Linked DNA regions of Homo sapiens: region 2 is linked to region 1. Evidence: fine-mapped expression QTL. Tissue or cell type: whole blood. Region 1 holds a variant in brackets; the other region holds the start of a gene. All regions are shown on one strand. Distances are between the middles of the regions. Region 1 holds the start of MZF1 (myeloid zinc finger 1). Region 2 holds the start of TRIM28 (tripartite motif containing 28).

Region 1 (2,875 bases):
CCATATTCCCCTAGCCTGCAGCTCCTATGTCCACGTGACTGCAGGTGATGCAGGAATGGGCTGGGGAGTCTGGCCCTGGAATCCCTCTGCCCTGGGCAGCCTTGCACAGGGTCTCTGTTGCAGGTGGCCACTTCTGTACCACAAGGGAGAACGTGTGTCTGGCAAAGCGTGGTGCTGCCCAGGGTGAGGCCGAGCTGGATGATGCTCCAGTCCTGAACCCCACTCGTGGACACTCACTCACCCATCTCCGGGGTCCGCCCGGCTCCCGGCGCAGCCCATCTACTAGGGCAGCAGCCTCCTCGGGGCTGCCTGGCCGCTGCCCCTGCACACGGGCCTGGATCTCAGGGGGCAGTGCGCCCAGGAACTGCTCCAGCACCAACAGCTCCAGCATCTGCTCCTTGGAGCGTACCTCTGGACGCAGCCACTGGCGACACAGCTCTCGGAGCTGGGCCAGGGCCTCTTGGGGCCCTGTGGCCTCCTCATAGCGGAAGCACCGGAAACGCAGGCGTGCAGCTTCAGGGCCTGGGTCCCATAAGGCAGCCTCACCCTCCTCCTCAGAGTCCTCTAGCTTCACCATGACAGGCCCCTCATCTTCTGGGGGTGCTCGGTCTGGGGAGCCCAGCACCGCAGGCCTCATAGAGGGTACCAGGTCAGGTATCTGAGGCCAGTGTCTGCCCCTGGTGAAGAAATAGGATGAGGCTGTTGCAAAAGGAGTACAGTGAATGCTTCACTGCCTAGTCTATGCTGTACCGTTTGATCCTCAGACCTACCCCATGTGGAAGGCAGATGAGGAAACAGGCAAAGAAAGGCCATCTACAACCCACAGACTTATGCAGCTGGAAGCCCTCCCTTAGCCACCTGTATCCCTGGTCTTCTCTCCGCTTGGGCCTGTGCAAAGTCTCTGACAGTCTCCCTGCTCCAAACACAGGCTTTTTTTTCTTTTCTTTGAGACATGCTGTCAGTCAGTTGCCCAGGCTGAAGTGCAGTGGCGAGATCATGCGTCACTGCAGACTTGACCTCCCGGGCTCCAGAGATCGGCCTCCCAAGTAGCTGAGACAACAGGTGTGTGCCACGACATCCGGCTAATTTCTTAATTTTTCTGTAGGGATGGGATCTTACTATGTTGCCTAGGCTGTTCTTGAACTCCTGGGCTCAAGCAGATGATCCTCTTACCTTGACCTCCCGAAGTGCTGGGACTTACAGGTTTGTTCCACCATGCCAGCCCACAGGCTGTTTTTTAGGACTAGAAGACACTTCTCTCCCCTGTATCCTTCCCTTCTTCTACATGTGCAACCTCATTCCTGCGCTACAGCTCTCTCTTTACCAGGTGGATGGCACCTATACACCTACAGCCTGGGCATCAGCATCACTGCTGGCGTCTCCCCCTACCCAACGCCAGCCCTTACTTCACCTTCTATTCTCTCATCTACTTCGATGTGGCTCCTCATTTGGGCCCCACCATCATTCCCCTCCC[T/A]GCTTGGAAGCCTCACTCCACCTAATCCTCCATGTCAACCTGTGCAGTCACTTGTATGGCTCAGCTCCCAGGCAGCACCCTCTCTCCCTACTCAGCCCCATCTTCTAAGCCCAACATCACACTACGCAATGCCCCATCTCAGCTTCCTGATTTAGCTGGGGTTGGAAGGGGATGGGGGAGCTTCGCAATGGGTGGGGGGGCGGCAAAGGCTCCAAGACTGCCGGAACAGGAGCCTGCAAGGAAGTCCCGAGACTCTGATTCCGCCCATCTTCAGATCACTGTGCCTTCGAGAACTTGTTTCCCCATTTGCAAGTGGGGCTGACCTCCCTCCTCGCGCTGTTCCTTCTGCAGCTGCGGCTTTAGGAAGGAATCTGCGTTTATGAAGGGGATGGCACCGCAGAATCATTCCCCCGTGGGTGGCATCGATTTCGAGGGCCGCCTCATCCTGGGGGCCAAGCCTCCACTCTTCAAGGTGCCAAGTCAACCTGAAACCCTGGGAGAGACTTGGGTCATAGCCAAGATGGCAGGTACCTACGGAGGGTCCCGAAATACACTTCCCAGAAGTCCAGGCGGCAACTTCCGCTCCAGGGTGCCAAGGTAGGTCCAGACGACGCCTAGGCAACCGGGGGCGGGGCTCCCAAAGCCTGTCGTCGTGGCAACGAGTAGTGATTGACAAGCCTCTCGCTCTAGCCCTGGGCGCTCCCGCAAGGACTGCCCGGATTCGTTCCCCGCGCTTCCGGTCTCACTGGGGAGCCGGAATCCCCGAGTCTGCAGCCACCGCCCCCGTCCACACGATAGCCCTCCCGGTTAAGAGGACCCCGCCCTCACCTCTGCGCTCAGCGGGCCGCTCCGCGCTCCTGAGCACGCGCAGTCTTCGACTTCCCCCTCCCGCTGGACTACGTCTCCCAGGATGCTCCGCGCACCAGCTCGAGCGCCTCCTTGCCCTTCCCCCACCCTCGTCCCCGTTTCTACACCCTCTCCTCCCTTCCCCTAGCGGTGGTCGCAATGATCAGGTCATACTCCTGGCCGCTTCTTCCCATGCTCCCCGCCTCGAATCCGTGCGTCGGCATGCGCAAGCCTCTCAGGTACAACAGACGGCAGCACCGCCTACCAGATCGCGCATGCCCCCCACCACGTTTTCCTCACTTCTCTACGGGCCTTCCTGAGATTAGCAGGATCCTGCACCAATCACGGCCGTCATTAGAACTCCGTCGGTGCCCCACCGCGTCTCCATGGCAACTCCCTACAGGAAGGGGCCTCTGCTACTTCCTAGACCGCAAAATGGAGAAAGGCTTGGCCCGATGCTTTCCGGCAGATGTAGTCAGCAGGCCCTTCGTGTGTACGTGCGCGCGCGGCGCGATGACGTTCCTCTGTGATCATGGGCGAGGGGCGGGCCCTGAA
Region 2 (2,897 bases), 28 kb before region 1:
AGACAGGATTCTCCCCACACACACCCTGCTTCCCTCCTCAGACAGGATTCTCCCCACACACACCCTGCTTCCCTCCTCAGACAGGATTCTCCCCACACAGACGCTGCTTCCCTCCTCAGACAGGATTCTCCCCACACAGACCCTGCTTCCCTCCTCAGACAGGGTTCCCCTCCGCACACACACCCTCTTTCCCTCAGACAGGATTTTCCCCACACAAACCCTACTTTCCACCTCAGACAGGATTCTCCCCACATGGACCTGCTTCCTTCCCTCCTTGGGATTCCCCACTGTTGAGGTTCAGTTTCCCCATCTGGAAAAGCATCAAAGTCAGGGTAGCTGCTGACGAAAACATGGGGAGGGGATGCCTTGGGGGGCTGGGTGGGATTTCACAGACTCATTGCTCTTTAGCCTCTTGTGATTTATATATATGTGTATATATATATATATATTTTTTTTCTTGATGGGGGGTTGGGGGGCCCGGCGTGGTGGCTCACACCTGTAATTCCAGCACTTTGGGAGGCCAAAGTGGGTCTATCATCTGACGTCGGGAGTTCGAGACCAGCCTGGCCAACGTGGTGAAACCCCGTCTCTATTAAAAATACAAAAATTAGCCAGGCGTGATGGCAGGCCCCTGTAATCCCAGCTACTCGGGAGGCTGAGGCAGAAGAATCGCTTGAACCCGGGAGGCGGAGGTTGCAGCGAGCCGAGATCGTGCCACTGCACTCCAGCCTGGGCAACAGAGCAAAACTCCGTCTCAAAACAAACACAAAAACCTTTCTCTCCTCTTTTGAGATGGAGTTTCACTCTTTTCTCCCAGGCTGTAGTGCAATGGCACGATCTCGGCTCACTGCAACCTCCGCCTCCCGGGTTCAAGCGATTCTCCTGCCTCAGCCTCCCGAGTAGCTGGGATTACAGGCGCCTGCCACCACGCCCGGCTACTTTTTGTACTTTTAGTAGAGACGGGGTTTCACCACGTTGGCCAGGCTGCTCTCGAACTCCTGACTTAAGATCCAACCGCCTCGACCTCCCAAAGTGCTGGAATTACAGGCGTGAGCCGCCGCGCCCGGCCACATTTTTCTCCATCTGTGGTCTAGGCTGGCGTGCAGTGGCACAATCCCGCCTCACTGCTGCCTCGGCCTCCTGGGCTAAACGGAGCTTCCCGACTCGCCTAAGAAAGTGGTGGGATTACAGGTATGAGCCACGGCGCCCGGCTGTGATCTACATTTGATTCAGTCAAGTTTCTGTGTTTCTCAAGTTTAACTATAGCGTGGTTAAAATCCAAAAGTCAGCACCCGAGCTCACACAGGAGCTTCCTCCCTCTTGGGATGGAGACTCTCCTCCCCTCTCCCTGGACACAGCCCTTCACTCGGTCTTGGCCCCGCCTACTTCTCCATCGGCCCTGCCCCCTATCCCGAACTCTTAGTGACGCAGAGGCTGGAGACGACTCTACGGCGGCGAAGAGACGCGGGTTGAGGAAGAGGGACGGATTGCCCATGCGCTTGGGCGCACAGCGGCCCGCTTCTGTGTGGTCTGGAGGTGGAGCTGAGAGGGGAATCACACTCTATAAAGGTTCGCATACCCCACTGGCGGATTCAATTGCGGCAGTGACGTCACAGAGGCCCCGCCCCGCCCCCACAAGAGCCCCACCGACGTGGGGTTGGCGGTGGTGGAAGGACTAGGAGTTGGCGCGTGCGTACTGGCGGCCTCTCCCGCACCGACCGGCCTGGGCCCCGCCCCCGGGCGTGAGGCGCCCAATGCGCGTGCGCGGCGGCGTCGGCGCCAGTTATTTCTGTCCCGCCCCCCGGCCTCGGCTCTTTCTGCGAGCGGGCGCGCGGGCGAGCGGTTGTGCTTGTGCTTGTGGCGCGTGGTGCGGGTTTCGGCGGCGGCTGAGGAAGAAGCGCGGGCGGCGCCTTCGGGAGGCGAGCAGGCAGCAGTTGGCCGTGCCGTAGCAGCGTCCCGCGCGCGGCGGGCAGCGGCCCAGGAGGCGCGTGGCGGCGCTCGGCCTCGCGGCGGCGGCGGCGGCAGCGGCCCAGCAGTTGGCGGCGAGCGCGTCTGCGCCTGCGCGGCGGGCCCCGCGCCCCTCCTCCCCCCCTGGGCGCCCCCGGCGGCGTGTGAATGGCGGCCTCCGCGGCGGCAGCCTCGGCAGCAGCGGCCTCGGCCGCCTCTGGCAGCCCGGGCCCGGGCGAGGGCTCCGCTGGCGGCGAAAAGCGCTCCACCGCCCCTTCGGCCGCAGCCTCGGCCTCTGCCTCAGCCGCGGCGTCGTCGCCCGCGGGGGGCGGCGCCGAGGCGCTGGAGCTGCTGGAGCACTGCGGCGTGTGCAGAGAGCGCCTGCGACCCGAGAGGGAGCCCCGCCTGCTGCCCTGTTTGCACTCGGCCTGTAGTGCCTGCTTAGGGCCCGCGGCCCCCGCCGCCGCCAACAGCTCGGGGGACGGCGGGGCGGCGGGCGACGGCACCGGTAAGTACGAAGTGATCGGTGCCACCCCTCCCCCTACTCTCTGCCTTTGATTCCGACTGGGTGCAGAGATGAGGATGCCACCTGGGCGAGAGGATGGGGGCCCGGACAGGGCACGGGAAATACTTTCTGGGTCCTGCATACGAACGTGGGTTTGTGCTGGCCGCTGAGATGGGACATCTGACTAAAGTTGGAGAAAAGAAGGCTCGGGGAGGGGAGGGGCTGGTTCGCTGCGGGATAATGGTCGGGGGCCCACCCAGCAGGGGAATGGTGGGGGCCATAACCTGGGTGGGAACTTGTAACAGTCTCCCACATCCCTGCTTCTCGAAGTGGTGGACTGTCCCGTGTGCAAGCAACAGTGCTTCTCCAAAGACATCGTGGAGAATTATTTCATGCGTGATAGTGGCAGCAAGGCTGCCACCGACGCCCAGGATGCGAACCAGGT

Evidence for each region. PIP is the estimated chance that this variant, and not a neighbour inherited with it, causes the effect.
Region 2: it holds the start of TRIM28, and the variant in region 1 is fine-mapped to the expression of TRIM28 in whole blood (INTERVAL, PIP 0.98).

The regions. Positions count from the first base shown.
Region 1 is chr19:58,570,753-58,573,627 of GRCh38, forward strand. MZF1 (myeloid zinc finger 1) reads right to left here and starts at 2,583. Exons shown (of 6, transcript NM_198055.2): 1 at 2,303-2,583; 2 at 242-677. The coding sequence starts at 637. MZF1-AS1 (MZF1 antisense RNA 1) reads left to right here. Exons shown (of 6, transcript NR_027334.2): 4 at 1,106-1,203; 5 at 1,826-2,071; 6 at 2,165-2,875. RefSeq lists enhancers at 1,288-2,149, 2,150-2,875, 2,378-2,467, 2,528-2,875. The variant T/A (reference allele first, on the strand shown) is at 1,475.
Region 2 is chr19:58,542,643-58,545,539 of GRCh38, forward strand. It overlaps TRIM28 (tripartite motif containing 28), which reads left to right and starts at 1,422. Exons shown (of 17, transcript NM_005762.3): 1 at 1,422-2,455; 2 at 2,783-2,895. The coding sequence starts at 2,116. It also overlaps the pseudogene RN7SL525P. RefSeq lists enhancers at 597-1,101, 1,253-1,562 and silencers at 1,683-1,892, 1,973-2,132, 2,153-2,442.